Linked DNA regions of Homo sapiens: region 2 is linked to region 1. The links come from fine-mapping of genetic effects on gene expression. Tissue or cell type: whole blood. Region 1 holds a variant in brackets; the other region holds the start of a gene. All regions are shown on one strand. Distances are from middle to middle.

The links. PIP is the estimated chance that this variant, and not a neighbour inherited with it, causes the effect.
Region 2: it holds the start of PCED1B, and the variant in region 1 is fine-mapped to the expression of PCED1B in whole blood (INTERVAL, PIP above 0.99).

What each region holds. Positions count from the first base shown.
Region 1 is chr12:47,209,355-47,217,463 of GRCh38, forward strand. It overlaps PCED1B (PC-esterase domain containing 1B), which reads left to right. Exons shown (of 4, transcript NM_138371.3): 3 at 6,868-7,335. It overlaps PCED1B-AS1 (PCED1B antisense RNA 1), which reads right to left and starts at 7,089. Exons shown (of 3, transcript NR_026544.1): 1 at 7,030-7,089; 2 at 6,811-6,910; 3 at 1-1,407. The variant G/C (reference allele first, on the strand shown) is at 4,998.
Region 2 is chr12:47,075,552-47,083,660 of GRCh38, forward strand. PCED1B (PC-esterase domain containing 1B) reads left to right here and starts at 4,070. Exons shown (of 4, transcript NM_138371.3): 1 at 4,070-4,174. It overlaps AMIGO2 (adhesion molecule with Ig like domain 2), which reads right to left and starts at 4,408. Exons shown (of 3, transcript NM_001370299.1): 1 at 3,911-4,408; 2 at 3,591-3,697; 3 at 896-3,514. The coding sequence starts at 3,451. The coding sequence ends at 1,883.

The sequences.
Region 1 (8,109 bases):
ACATGCCTGTAATCCCGGCTACTCGGGAGGCTGAGGCAGGAGAATCACTTGAACCAGGGAGGCGGAGTTTGCCGTGAGCCAAGATCATGCCATCGCACTCCAGCCTGGGCAACAGAGCAAGATTTCGTCTCAAAAAAAAAGGTAATAATAATGAATACATGAATATGTAACACCTGGATTAAAGTAGACTCTCAATAAATGGTAGCAATAATAATTATTGTTGATTTTGTGAAAAGAGTTGATACACTTTAAATGCTTGGAATAGTATACTCAGTAGGTGTTCATTGTTATTGAATACTGTTATCAAAGGGAATCCAGATGCCTTATCAATTTGGGATCTTCAGGCTTTATCCCAGTAATGCTATGGATTTGGCTAATGTGTTTGATTAAGGCAGAAAGGCTGGTATCTTCAGAAAAATTTTATGTGATTTAGCAGGTTAAATTCAACCTATGAAGGGAAGTAAAATTATAAGATCTGAGTCTTAGAAAGAGCAAGACTGTAGTTTAGAGAACGGATTGGAAGAAGATGAACTTGGAAGCCACAGCACCACCACAGCAGGATTCTAGATTTGAACTAAAGCAGAGGCTATAGGAAGAGAAGTAGACTGATCAGAGACTAGCTTTGGAGATAGAAGCTACTCTTCTTGTGGCAGATGAAGAGGAAGGAGTCACAGATGATCTTGAGATTTCTGTCTTGGGGTAACCGGGTGGATATTGATTTCATTTACTGAGAGGAGGAACAGTTTTGGAAAATAACATGATTCGTTTAGAATTTATTTTAAATTGGAACCTTGCGTGGTCAGTTTATTCAACCAGAAACAAAGACATTTCTTTACTGTTAGCTATTTTTGTCATGTATTTTAAAACTATGCCATAATTTAACCAACATATATCACTAAGAATAAATGCATAGGTAGAAAATAACCACAATCAGAGTCTTCTGTCATGATACCAAAATATAAAGTGGCTGGGGCCACAGTTATGTAACACTTAGAAATCATGACTAACAAAATAGAATATTGACATATGATTCAAAGACTTACAATTACAGATTAATTAAACTACACCAGATTCAGATAAATGAAAGTAATGTCTGATTCTCCATCTTCATTTATTTAAATGTATTTCAGGCCGGGCTTGGTGGCTCATGCCTGTAATCCCAGCACTCTGAGAGGCTGAAGCAGGTAGATCACCTGAGGTCAGGAGTTCAAGACCAGCTTAGCCAACATGGTGAAACCCTGCCTCTACTAAAAATACAAAATTGGCTGGGCATGGTGGTGCATACCTGTAATCCCAGCTACTTGGGAGACTGAGGCACGAGAACCGCTTGAACCCAGGAGGTGGAGGCTGCAGTGAGCCAAGATCATGCCATTGCACTCCAGCCTGGGTAACTGAGCAACACTCTGTCTGAAAAAAGTAATAATAATAAATAAATATATTTCAGAGACACAACAACAAACTATGTTAAGGAAAAGAGCACCCTAAAAGAAAAAGGAAGGTCAAAAAAAGTAAGCTGTAACAATATTTTTGTAAGTGATAATTGGGAAAAATACTTAAAAGCCTACTATTTTACCGGTAAAATGGAATAGTGATATACGATTAATTTATAAAACAAATGATGCAATATGGGCCAATCGTATATGCAAAGCAAATATTCATCATAAAAGAATATGACTAGAAGCTACTTTTCATGGCGCTATTTTCATTTTCATGTTTTCAGTAGAATTTTAAAAATCCCTTTTCAGTAATAGAAGTGATACTCTAACATAAAGCCATAAATGCACTCCCAACATTGAATTCTAGTTATCTGCTTCTGTGTTTTTCCCTCCCTGCACTGTGAGCTACAGAACATAGAGAAGACCATATCCTACTCAACCTCATATCTCAGGTGCTAAGCACTGTGCCTGACCGAAGGAGCACTCGATGGATGTTTATCTAATAAAGTAAGAAAGGAAGAACAGCACACATCCAAAAATATTAAGCTGTTTCTATCTTCCTTGACAAAACAACCTTATGGCCAGGTGCGGTGACTCACGCCTGTAATCCCAGCACTTTGGGAGGCTGAGGCATGTGGATCACTTGAGGCCAGGAGTTCAAGACCAGCCTGGCCAACATGGTGAAACCCCAACTCTACTTTAAAAAAAAAAAAAGGAGCCAGGTGTAGTGGCACATGGCTATAATCCCAGCTACTCAGGAGGCTGAGGCAGGAGAACTGCTTGAACCTGGGAGGCAGAGGTTGCAATGAGCCAAGATCGCACCACTGCACTCTACTATGGGCAACAGAGTGAGACTCTGTCTCAAAAAAAAAAAAAAAAAAAAAAAACTGGGCGCAGTGGCTCAGGCCTGTAATTCCAGCACTTTGGGAGGCTGAGGCGGGTGGATCACTTGAGCCCAGAAGTTCAAAGCCAGCCTGGGCAACAAGGTAAAACCCAATCTCTCGGCTGGGCACGGTGGCTCACGCCTGTAATCCCAGCACTTTGGGAGGCCGAGGCGGGCGGATCACGAGGTCAGGAGATCGAGACCATCCCGGCTAAAACGGTGAAACCCCGTCTCTACTAAAAATACAAAAAATTAGCCGGGCGTAGTGGCGGGCGCCTGTAGTCCCAGCTACTTGGGAGGCTGAGGCAGGAGAATGGCGTGAACCCGGGAGGCGGAGCTTGCAGTGAGCCGAGATCGTGCCACTGTACTCCAGCCTGGGAGACAGAGCGAGACTCCGTCTCAAAAAAAAAAAAAAAAAAAACCCAATCTCTACCAAAAATACAAAAAACTAGCAGGGCATGGTGGCTCACTCCTGTGGTCCCAGCTACTGGGGGTAGGTGGGAGACTGAGGTGTGAGGATCACTTGAGCCCGGAGGTGGAGGTTTCAGTGAGCTGAGATCATGCCACTGCACTCCAGCATAGGTGACAGAGCAAGAGACTCTGTCTCAAAAAACAAAAAGAAAAAAGGAGAGAGGACCGGAATTGGAAAACTAAGCCTGTGGTTTAAAGGTAAGGGACATTGCTAAATAATGTAAGACCCAGTTCTTGCAGGGCATTAAATTATTCTCTGTAAAAAGAGCTTACAGCCTTAGAGAAAAAAATTCATGAACTATAGCTCTGGAACTATGAGTCCAGGACCCAGGAAGCCTGGTCTTTAGTCCAAGCTCAGTAGTTAACCTGTGTGATTCAGACAGTTGCTCAATCTCCCCGAGCTTCAACTTGACCTAACGATGATTTCTGTCATCTCCCCTCCACTTGCGCAGTCTATTCCTGCAGTGATGGTGTCATACCAGCCCATGGAACAGTGCCCATCAAACAAGGTACTTGTCAGTATTTACGTTTTTTTCCAGTGGTTAGTCATTTAAAGAATTATTTTGCATTACTAAAGCATGGATGCATGTATACTAATCCCTGGAACAAAAATGAGCATTTACTAAGTACCAAGCAGTCTGCTTAGCACTTTGCAGGTTTAAACTTCACAACTGGAAGTGGGCCAGAGGAGTTGAGTACCTTTCCCAAAGTCACACAGCTTGTGGATTATTAATTTGGGACTCTGAACTCAGGCTTTTCTGCCTGCAAAGGCCATGTTCTGAACCACTAGGCTGCATTGGAACAGAATACAGAACTTGCATAAAACATAAGAATTCTAAGAATTTTGTGGAAATGTTTAAGAAATCCTGACAGAATGGGATCTTTTATAAATTCACATTTCTCATTCCATCCATCCTGAATAGTGAAATCACTGATTTGGCTTTTCTCAATCTGTAACATCCCAAATCCCAATAAGTATTGCCTTGTTCATCAACACAAAGTTTGCACATACTTCGTGCAAAATTTAGTTCTGTTACTAAATCGAACTCATGAGAAGTTTTAATCCAGAATCTCAAAGTTCCTAATATGTTATCAGAGAAGATTTCGTACCCTAATAGAAACAAATTATTCATTATTCATATGTGCTTGAAAGTACTAATTGTGAGTGCTTTGAAGAGAAATTATCAAAAATATGTGGACTGTTTAAGTCAGACAACCAAAGAAAAAAACATAGTTTTGTGATTTGCCAAATTTGGCCCATTCGTTTAAGGCAGCCCAGGAATAGATTTAAACACATACACACACGAGCCAGCTGAAATTAATGTATATATATGTATATATTTAATGGGCTGATTTCTGGCCCTCTTATAGGATTCCCAAGAAGATAAGAAAAATAATTGCGTTCCTTAAGATAGAAAATGTGGATAAAATGGTAATGGCTTGCATAAAGCAAAGTTTAAATTTCTCTGTGGCTATAACTACTAATGAGCTGCTAATAGTAAAGGATATCTGTGTGTGAAAGCACATTCACAGGGTAAAACATTATATGTGCATAAGTTGTCATTACTGTTTAAGAAAAAGCCAAGTTTGGTGGGTAAAAAATAAAAGATGGCTCACTGAGCTTTGAAACATGAGATAGGGCCAGAATAGCAATAGTAGCTGTCTACATAGAGCATAATAAGTTCTTGAAAGCAAGAAAATCAGTTGAAAATCTGTTGATCTCAACTTTATTTTAAGTTTAAAGAGTATAAGTGTGATTATCATTTGCATTATTACAGCTCTTCTGTTCTCTGGTCTTGGGATGATTACAGAGATTGTCCTTTTATTCTCACAGTGCACAGACTAGCTGAAATCTACAGAACTAGAAAGATTTGCAATTCATTTATAGAATTGCTAGAACTAAATAATGGCAGATTTTTCAAAGTTATGTAATAGACTACTCTGGATTATAAAATACTAAAGCTATCAGTTGGGTTCTGCCTTGATTCTATTAAATTTCCCGGTAATGACTGTACTAAAACTCATGGGGAACTGCAAGATAACTTTATTGATGGCCATAGAGGATGAAAACAATGCATAAGGTATGGAATTAATTTTAAGCCACACACTGAATAGACAGTGATGTAAAGTAAAATGATATTTTTCAAGGAAAGACAATTATGTCACATTATAATCCAGTTTACATAAATAGCATACTATTAAAAAAA[G/C]CTAAGTCTTCAGAGCATGTAATTCAGGACTGTTGTGAAACCTCTTACTCTTGTTGGTTAGTTATTTTGTGCTGTAAGGGAGGGAAAATGGCTTCCTCCCTACTTCTAGGTTCTTTGGCTGGGATACAAATTAAATTGACATAAAACAGATTAACAGGAGAAAAAAACATTTTTGGCCAGGCTCGGTGGCTCATGCCTGTGATCCCAGCACTTTGGGAAGCTGAGGTGGGAGGATCACTTGAGCCCACGAGTTCAAGACCAGCCTGGGCAACATATTGAGACCAAATCTCAATTCAAAAAAAAAGAAAAGAAAAGGAAAAAACATTTTTAATTATATGCACACACACTGGAATCCCCCAGGTAATAAAAGTTGTCTGAGAGCAGGACTCTTCCTGATACAGATACTTTGACTAATGTAGATTTCTTTTATAAATATAAATTTATTTTACAAAAGGACAGCTTTTCAGAGATACTCTTGTGTCTGCAGTTGCTCAGAATAATCAGCTCGAAATATGCCAAATAACTATATTTTGGGGTGGCATATTTTTTATTTTTGAGATGGAGTCTCGCTGTTGCCCAGGCTGAGGTGCAGTGGCGCAATCTCGGCTTGCTGCAACCTACGCCTCCTGGGTTGAAGCGATTCTCCTGCCTCAGCCTCCCAAGGACCTGGGATTACGGGAACCTGGGGGTGGTATATTCTGATCTTCTGTAGTCATGCACTGGGACCTTCTGTAGTCATGCATTTTCTCTCTCTCTTTTTTTTCTGATTCATTATTTCCTTTTCTTTTTCATCTTGGTATTTGTAGGGAAAGTGATATTCCTCTCCCCGAAATCATATTATTCCAGACAAAAGAAAACAAATGCCTACACTTATCTAATCAATCAGAAGACCATCTCCCCCACCCTTTTTTTTTTTTTAAAGATGGAGTCTTGCTCTTGTCACCCTGACTGGAGTGCAATGGGACGATTTTGGCTCACTGCAACCTCCGCCTCCTGGGTTCAAGCGATTCTCCTGCCTCAGCCCCCCGAGTAGCTGGGATTACAGGGGCCCACCACCACGCCCAGCTAATTTTTGTATTTTCAGTAGAGACGGAGTTGCACCATGTTGGCCAGGCTGGTCTCGAACTCCTGACCTCAGGTGATCCACCCGCCTCGGCCTCCCAAAGTGCTGGGATTACAGGCATGAGCCACAGCGCCAGACGAACCATCTCCCTTTTAAGCACGCTGTCCCCTTGAGTTACCTGCTGGTTTCAAGTGGAACACTAAGGGAGGAAGCAGAAAGTTCTTATCTTGCTCTGCCACATACTGGATCTAGCTGAGGCTGGGGCTCAGGCCTGTGGTTTCCTGTAGTGTGGACTGAGCCATTTTTCCATCAAGACGTCAGTGGAGAGATGAAGTGAAAGGATTTAAAAGCGGTTTGTGGCCTGCCATGGTGGCTCACCCCTATAATCCCAGCACTTTGGGAGGCCAAGGCGGGTGGATCACCTGAGGTAAGGAGTTCGAGACCAGACTGGCCAACATGGTGAAACACCATCTCTACTAAAAATACAAAATCAGCCGGGTGTGGTGGTGGGTGCATGTAGTCACAGCTACTCGGAGCCTGAAGCAGGAGAATCGCTTGAACCTGGGAGGCAGAGGTTGCAATGAGCCGAGACCATGCCACTGCACTCCAGCCTGGGCAACAAGACCAAAACTCCGTCTCAAAAAAAATAAATAAATAAAAATAAAAGCGGTTTGTAAACTGTAACACCTTGCACAGAAACACAAGATTACTACTATTAAATATTATTTAGAAAAGTAGAGTTCTTCTTACCATTTCCCTGTTTCTTTCTTCTCACTTCCTCCTTTCCCCTTCTGACCATCTTTTCAGCCGTGAACATACCACACCAGCAAGAACAATAAGAGCCAAGGGTCTGAATTGTTTAATCAAAGGAAGAGTCAAAATAAGCTACACCCAGATTACTGAGAAAGGTGAAATGAAAACAAGCTCAAAACCAAATTCCAGGAAGATGCTGTCTTTGTATTGACTTACCATTTCATGTTTTCACACATGTCAAAGTCTTGAAGCTTCGGTCATTAGTCTTCCGCTTCCTAAAGCAAGAAACTAAATGCTGACTTGTGTCGTTTGCCCCAGATGCCACCGGAAATGTCATCTTCTCCCCAGACGCTGGCTTGCAAGCACAGCAGCACCCAGAGGCTAACCTATTTCCCCTATAGCCCAAGCTCTGAGATCTCCCGTCTGGTCACAATGATCTACAGGAGAGGAAGAAAGCTATCTAGGGACGAGATCTAGAATCAACTGAGAGAGATGCTTAAAAATCACCAGTTACTTTAATGAGTAAGTACTTTTCAGTTTTTCCATTTTATCTGAAACTTTAAGTTGGCATTTCTGACCAGCCTTTCTTGAGACCATCATTTTTTGGGCACTTACTGTAGACAGGAATCAGCACCCTAGCCTCCTTCAGCCCACCCCATGTAACACTAAAGAGACAACTGGTGCTTGGCAATAACAAAAATATTAGTGATTGATAAACTTGTAAATTTATTAAAATGGACAGTGAAAGAAAACAGCCAATTTAGTTGTGAACTGGAGAAGGGACGTGAGGCATCTGTTGTCTGCAATCTTGTATGTTGTGGTTGACCACAAAGGCTTGGCATCAGGTTTTACTTCCAGCACTACTTCTTATAAAATGGATGACCTTGGGCAGATTACTCAATCTTTTAGCCTTAATTTTTAAAAGTATAAAATGGAGAAAATTAGAATATGTAGTCCAGGTGCGGTGGCCCACACCCGTAATCCAAGCACTTTGGAAGGCTGAGGCAGGTGGATTATTTGAGTCTAAGTTCAAGACCAGCCTGGACAACATGATGAAACCCTGTCTCTAAAAAAAACTATAAAAATTAGCCAGGCATGGTGGCACAGGCCTGTAGTCCCAGCTACTAGGGAGGCTGAAGTGGGAGGATTGATTGAGCCTGCAGAGTTGCTGCAGTGAGCCATGATTTCGCCACTGAATTCCAACTTGGGCAACAGAGTGAGACAAGAAAGAAACAGAGAGAGAGAGAGAGACAGAGAAAGAAGAAAAAAAAAGAAAGAAAGAAAGAAAGAAAAAGA
Region 2 (8,109 bases), 130 kb before region 1:
GTTCCCTAAAAGGACACCTCCTGGCTACTTGTTCCTTAACTTCCCGCTGCCCAGTCTGCCACTGAAAGCCCCACATGGCACTTAGGGAGCTCTCACCATGCATCCCTGATTATCGTTATTACTATTACTATTCTGATTTGTTCACAGAAAACCATTACTACCAGTCAGTGGTTGATCTTCTATCCTTATCTACTTATCTGCAATATTTTTCACTGTTGCCCACTCCCATTCTTTAAAAATTATCTTCTTTCTTAGCCCCAGGACAATCAATCTTTGATTCTCCTTTGCAATGTTTTGATCACTTTTTTATGCCCATCCCTTAAAAAGGAGTCATTTCTTTGGACCTCCAATCTTCACCAGGGAGAATGCTAAACCCCAGCTCTCCTTCTTTCCCTGCCACTGTTTGACCTTACACAGGTCGTATTCTCTCTGGGCCTCATTTGTCCCTGAGAAAAGAGAAGGAGCTGGAGTGATGATGTGGAACATCTCTTCAAGCTGTACACTGCTATGCTAGTCATCTTAATCCCATTCCTGTATTCCTTCAGTATGTGGTAGAGTTTCAGAAAGCAAGTATAGGTCTGTGATGATGCTAATACCACCAAGAAATCATTCATTCCAGTATGGGGAGAAACCTTAAACACCATCTGGTCTGAAACCTTTGTTTTACAGATGAGGGAACCTAGGTTCAGAGAGGGTACTTGATTGCCTCAAAGCAGAGACAGGATAATAAGGAGGTCTCCTGGGCTCTCACTTGTTGCAAAATAAATTTGAGTGTTTTCTGGATCTGGCTAAAGTGCACAATGATATCAGAGTAAAACGTCATACGGAAGGTATAAATTGATCTAGAACACATTAAAGCCTTCCCCTCCCCCTTTAAAAAAATCAACTTTAAGAATTTTGGAGAGAGATTTGCTATCAGTGGTGCTTTATACAAAATAGCATAATCTGATAACATAAGACATTTTAGATTTATGTTTTTAAATAGCCAAATAAAACAAAATATCAAGTCACAGATTACATATATTTACATTAATTCAAATGTCCAAAGCACAGTACAGTAGGGTCTATTTAATAGTTCACATAATTTAAGATTTACATATACACAAGCACATGAACCAATATTAGTTTGCTAGAACAGGGATTTAAGAAGTTACTCAGACATTTTGGTATTGACACTTACATATTTATGGCAACAAATTATGATGACTTTAAATTTTCAATGAGATCTTTTGTACAAGAATACAGAATGGGAAGAATGTACAAAATGAAAAGACAGGCAAACAAATGTACTTTCCTTGCACTATTTCTATAACACCATATAGGATGTGGCATTATCCAGTACATTTTATCAGTGTAGTCTATTCATTCTGGTCTAAAACGGTAATTTTGGCTGAATAACCCCCAAATCTAACTTTGCTTTAGGCTTTATAATTAATTGATGCTTGATTCTTCTTTCTACATCTTTTAAAAATGAAATTGGACACTAGTGTTTTTCTTTAAAATAACTCTGGTACTAGTAAGTTAGCAAAGTCTATTTTTAAAGGACACTAATACATAAAGTTTATTTTTTCTTTCAATATCCTAAATAAAGGGACAATGGGAGTCATATCACCTTTGGGCCTACTCTGAAATTACCAATAGTGCTAAAAGCTAAGATATTGTGATCTAGAACTTAAACTTTGGAAAACAACCCCATCTTTCTATGGCACATTGAGGAACTGAAGTACTTTACCTCATTTCCTACCAATCATTTTAAGAGAATTTGGTTGTATTTCAAAGAACAAAACAACACAATTTCTGTCCTGCTGTTTATTTTGCAGACCACACACAAAGTTAAATATGAACAGATTAAATTATGACATCATACAAATATAGGCACAAATTAAGTGGACGCCACAAAAGGTGTGTCAGAAAACACTGAATTGACTGAATCTGAGTCAGATTTCCCCCTCGTGGACTTTAGGATGCCCTCAGCTATCACTGCCTCGCTGGGAAAGAGCCTGACTTTCCCGTTCTGCCCTGCTGCAGTATCCTTCAGGGGTTCCAAAAACACCACTCTTTTACCTGCACCTGCCTTCCGTTCATCAGCGGAGGCATCACTAGCGGGGCCAGGACTGAGAATCGATGAATGGGCATTGCTTTGGTGTAGCATATTTTTCTGTCTCTTGGTTTTACACTTGCAGGGGCATGGAGTCAGATAGAGGTACAAAAGTACCAAAACGATACTGGCCACGCAAGCAGCAAGAGTGGTAAAAGCTGTGTTAAATGCCTCATGAGCATGGGATCTGCTTACAGTGAAATTGCTCACATTTATTGTGACGTCCACAGTTTCATTTAACAGGCGTTGCTTATTCATTGCGATACAAGAATACACTCCAGCATCCTCAAAACGAGGGCTTTCTATAACCAGACTTCCATTGTGAAACACGTAAAAGTTTTCCATCTCTTTATCCGGCTCTAGCAGTCTGTTATCTGGACCCACCCAGATGAAATCCGTATTTGCATTACCTGTCTTGCTGTCACAGTGGACCATCAGTCTTTCCCCGACCTGAGCCTCATGAATAAAGCCAAGCGCACGAAAGGAACCATTGATGATGCTGTCAGAGCAATTCATAAAGCTATCCTGGAGCAGAAGTACCTGACGCGAGTGCCTGGAGTCAGACCACAGGCGACAGGTGTAATCGTTCTTAAAATCCATCACTGAGCTAAAGTGCCTACGATACCAAAAGACCAGCAAGGAGTACAGGGAACAGTCACAGACAAATGGGTTTCCATGAAGGTAGATGCCTCTCAGCTGTTTTCCTGGCACTAAATTTATGTGGTGCATTGGCATGGAAGGAATTCGGTTATAAGAAACATCTAAAAACATCAGTTCTGCCAGCTTGAACCTTCCAACATACAAATCCATCGGAAACTGTGTGAGAAAATTTCCACTTAAGTAGAGTTTCTGCAACTGGGAGAGCCCTCCAAACGCTGAAGGATCGAGATAGGATATGTGATTGTTGTAAAGCAGAAGCACTTCCAGAACCTTCAACTCTTGGAATACAGCATTTTTCACCGTCTTCAGCTTATTGGACGATAAGTCAAGACACTTCAAATTTGGAGTTGTGGAAAAACTGCCCGTGGAAATGCTGGTGATGTTGTTATGACGAAGAATTAGGGTGTTCAGCTTTGCAAACGATACTGGAATCCACTCAGAATCCAGAAGCCCAATTCTGTTATAACTCAGGTCCAGTCTCTTAATCAGTCTGAAAAGGTTCCCAGGCACCTTGGACAGGTTTTTGTTGGTGCAGCTGACGATGTCAGTGGCACAGATGCAAGCGGTGGGGCACACCCCAGAGGCACCAGGGCCCACAGTCACTGTGATCATCAGCAAACACAGCAGCTCCCTGCAGCCCGGTCTGACGACGGCTCCAAGCAGGGTGGGCAGAGTGTGTACACGTAACGACATTATGGTCGCCTCTGAGTCTCTTCCCGGTGTCTTTTCCACCGGCTCAGCCTCCCACCAGTGAACCTGGCAAACAATTAATAATTCAGAGGGAGTAAAAAGCAGAAACTGACTACCACTAGTTAACCCATAAGAGCCATACCTTACTTTCTTTCCAATAACTTTTGAAATGGGTTTTATTTCACAATAGGGAGCTCTGTGTTGCCTCTTCACTGTTAAATGTATTTTTTCCTCTTTCCTGGGTTAGTCCTGCTTATAAAAATGTACAGTCACATTCTCTCCATACAACCCACCGTCTCACCCACCATCAGAAACTCAATTTTTTCCTAAGGTGCATCCTGCGTTGTTGTTGTTGTTGTTGTTGTTTTAAACTCCCTCCAACAGACACAACTATACGCAAACGTACGCTACAAACAATTAAACGGAAATACTTAGCAACCACCCATCCAGGAAAAAACTCACGGTGCTGGGGAGCCTCGTGGGCTCCGGGGAGGCTGCCTACGCAGTGCCTTCCGAAGGTCTGCGCGTCCGTCTGTCCGTGTCTGTCACTCTTGCACCTTCCGACTTCCTTTCCCTCCGGCTCCCGGCGGGCGGCACCCTCTAGCCGGCTCTCAACTTTGAGGAGTTTCAAGCAGCCGCGGCGGCAGCAGCAGCCCTGGACGCAGCAGCCAAGCTCTTCGCTGGCTCCCGGGGGCTCTCCCGGGTTCCTCTCATTGCAGGCTGAAGGTACCGCCTCGGCGCTCTGGCCGCCGTGTGCCCGCGCGCGGGGCGCCCCGCTCCCAGAGCCGGGGCCGCGGGAGGGGGCGCAGGCAGCCGGGCGGCAGCGGGCGGCCCCGCCTCTCCGCACTCGGGAGGCTGCAGGACCCGGGGTTCCCGCGCGCCCGGGGCCGGGAGACGGGCTGGGGCGCCGGTCCCACCCCTGCGCGTCCTGCCTCCTGCGGGCAGCAGCTCGGAGCCTGCGGGAGGGAGCAGGCTGGGCGCGTGGTGGGGGGCGCGCGATGCGGAGGGGGCGGCGGCGCAGCCAATCCGAGAGGCGGCCGGCGCCCCCTCATACCGCCCCGCGGCCTCGCCGCCTCCTCCCGCTTTCCTCCTCCAGCTCCCACCCGGACCTCTAGAACGGCCGCGCAGAGCGGGGAGGGGGCAGGGGTCCACACCAGAGGCCCAGACTCTGGTCCTTGAGTCAAGATGCCCAACCCACTCGCCTACCAATTACGTCCCTTCGTCCAGCTCCAAGCCGGGCGGTAATGGGGTCCAGGAAGGCTAAAGGGGACACGCCCAGCCACCGAGGGAGGGGTCTCACCCTTGGAGACCCACTTCGCGGCGGCCGCACAGGTCACGTCTCTCTCCCCACCCAGGCCAAGGAATCCCCGGACCTCTTAGAGCTTTGCTTTGGGGCAAGGGCCAAGGAGGCTTTGCCTGCGCCAAGTGCAGTTGACTGTCTGGGTTTACAAAATAAACCCAGAAGCAGCCTGACGTCTCCGCTCGTTTCTAGGGAGGAGGTCGCGGGGAGGGAAGTCGGGAACGTTTCCTCTCCACAGGGATATCTGCTGGGAGGAAGTAACCGGGAAATCGCCACGGGGACACCCCTCACCTCCCTGGGAAAGTTCTATCCCTTTCCTGACTCAGGAGGCGGCAACAGGGATGGTGTCCAATTCAAGAAGGAGGAGGGCAGGAAAGAAGGCTTGGAGCCGACCTTCCGGCTGGAATGCAAAGATAAGAGTATTAACCCAAATAATAATAATAATCCCAGAGCAGACCTTTTTTTCTTTTTTCTCTCTTCTCCTTCCCCTCTTCTCTCTCCCTCTCTCTCTCCCTCTCTCTCCTTTCTCTTTCGTTCTCTCTCTCTCATTTCCTCTGTCTCTGTCCCCGCCACCTCCCCGTCTTTTGCAAGCGTGCTCGTGGCGCGTGCGGGACAGGGAAGTAAGGGGCGTGTGCGCGGAGGCTCTTCATCCCTTCCGGAGATGCCGCGGCCGACCAGCGCGCTTTGGTTCAGCAAGCACAGAAGGTGCAAGCCGAACAAGGCCATTCAGAAATGAGGTGGAGACTATGAGGCTGATGAGCTCTACGATTAAAAATCCATTTTTGTTTAATTCCAAGATAAGTTTTAACGATGGGATTTGAGTGAGTCAGATCGCCCATTTGGCCATTATATCCGGATTAAAAGAAATAAATTACTGCCTTGACAAAAGATGCCAACCACAGTGGAATGAAAAGCAACCAAATTGAGGAAACAGTTGGGGCAGGATAGATAACTTGTAATATTACTTAAAAATAAAAATGATGAGGACAACCAACTCTTCCTCCCCTCCCCCGCGCACCTTTTCACTTGAGCAATCTTGAATTTAGTGAAAGTTGTTTCCTACATGGTCCGTGAGTCATTGCTGTGGTCAGGCAGATTTGTTAGACCAACACCTAATTTAAATAGAATTGTTTGTGGAATAAAGCCGGGCTAGCACTAATAAATCTAGGCATTTTCAGATGAGGACAACTTGATTCAGATTAATTTATTTCATGAAAGTTGAATTTTATCATAAGAACACAGCCTAAAATGCTTCATGCAAGCATTTCTTACTGTGTACTTAAAGGGGAGAGGCAGAAGTTGAGATTTTCTAGTATTAGGCCACACTTCCTGGGATTCTCAAAAGCTTGGTCTCCAGGACTTCAATTTTATAGAGTTAGAATAGTTAATACAGAGGAATAGAATTAAAATCGCTCAGAGGAATATTTTTTAAATGACTAATAAATGACCAGGTTTTTGCAGGATTTTACTAATTAACATCGTATTTTAAGGAAACCATGAAGGCAGAAGAAAGACCTGTATTTAATGCAAAAATAGTCTAAAAAGAATAAGTGATTCAAAAAAATGGAAACAGGAAGGTTATATTATTATAACTACAGGCATATTGTAGAAACATTATGCAGAGATTACACAGCAAAAGTAAACTAAATGCACTCAAAATCCATAGACAAGGCTATTTATCCATTTGAAGACCTGATTTGGGGGATTTCACATGTTTGTGAAAGGGAAGAACGTTGTAAAAGGATTGAGTTTACTAGCTGGGAGGAAAGAAAGATAAGAGTTGATCTTAAGGTATAAGACGTGACCTTATTTTGTGGAGGATAACATTTTTATCTTTCTAGCATCCCTTCTCCTTCTAACAGATTCCCTCTTTCCACTAGAAGGTAAATTCCAAGAGGATAGCAGTTTTATCTGTTTTGTGTATTGCTGTATTCTCAGCTCTCAGAACCCTGCTTAACACATTCAATAAATTTTTGATAAATGAACTGATGAACAGGGAACCTATTCAAAGTGGTTAAGATAACGGTTTACCCCAACTGAATCTGCTGGTTGCTGTCCTGCCTTTTATGCTTTGAAAGCTTGTCTTAAAAAAAAGGAGAAGAAAGAGAAAGAGGAGTCCTGTAAATGTTATTTGAGTCCTGGATCTGGTAGTACCTGAAGGCCACTGCATACTTTTACTTCCTTTTTAATTATATTTTCCACCCCACCCCCTTTTTTAGCTTAAATTATTTTGAGTTGCATGTCACTTGTGACGGACAGAGTACTAACACATGTAATGATGGTGATAATAAATATGTACTGAGCCTTTATTATATGCCAGACACTGAGCTATGCGTTTTACATGCATTATTTCATTTATTGCTCACCACAGCCCTGTGACATTATATAATCCTATAACCCAGATGGTAAACAACTGTGTTCCAAATTATTTGAAAATGAAATGGGATGCAATTATCTCAAGGTTCTATTTGAAGGATTTAGATTAAACAGAAGAGAGACGTTTCTGCCAGGGTGGTTCCAACCTGGAATGGGTTGCCAAGACAGATGGTTGAGTTGCCTTCTCAGGAGTTTAAAATAGGATGCGATAGATATTCCTCTGGCCTCTTCCACATGACATAATACATTGGAATTTTTGACCATTCAGTAATGACTCCAAGGGATAGTAGAATGTGGCTTGACACTTGACATAATTCTGAATCTAGTATGCTGAGAAGGGGGTGTGGTCATGTGAGTGTCTAGCTGGGTTTGGAAATACTATCTGCCTGAGGCAGTAATTTGAGGTGATGAAATCACAGGAGTTCTAGCCCTGTAATTTCCACAATTTCTCAGGTTGTAATCAAAGATTTAAGTAATTAGAGATATGAGACAAGAAATTAATAGCACATGTTTGATGATTCTAAGTCATTTTTACTAATAATTAACACTTCAATAGCACTTTATGTCCTAAGAAGGGCTTTCACATTCTTTATCTCCTTTGACTCTACCACGCGTCCTGTAGTCAGGTGGAATTTATACACTGGCAGATATCTTGTTGCCTCTTTTTTCGGCGTGAGGCACACTGGGTGTTCTTTGGAGATGGAGCTCACTGGGGTCACTGATTGCTGCATGCAGGAGCTTCCTGTGGAGTTTCATCACTCTGGCGGGCAGCACTCTTAATAGGATTTTTACAGTGTAACTTAGCTTGAACCCACAAGAAAAACATACCTTTGCCCAACAACTATGGAAGTGCACTCAGCTCCTACAGCATCCTGTTCTTCTCTTGGCCTGCTCCAGTTGGTTTTTGTAAATTGCCTAAGATTTTTTATAGAACCAGATCTCTCACCCCATCCTGTGTCTTTCATTATATGGAGATACATTTTCT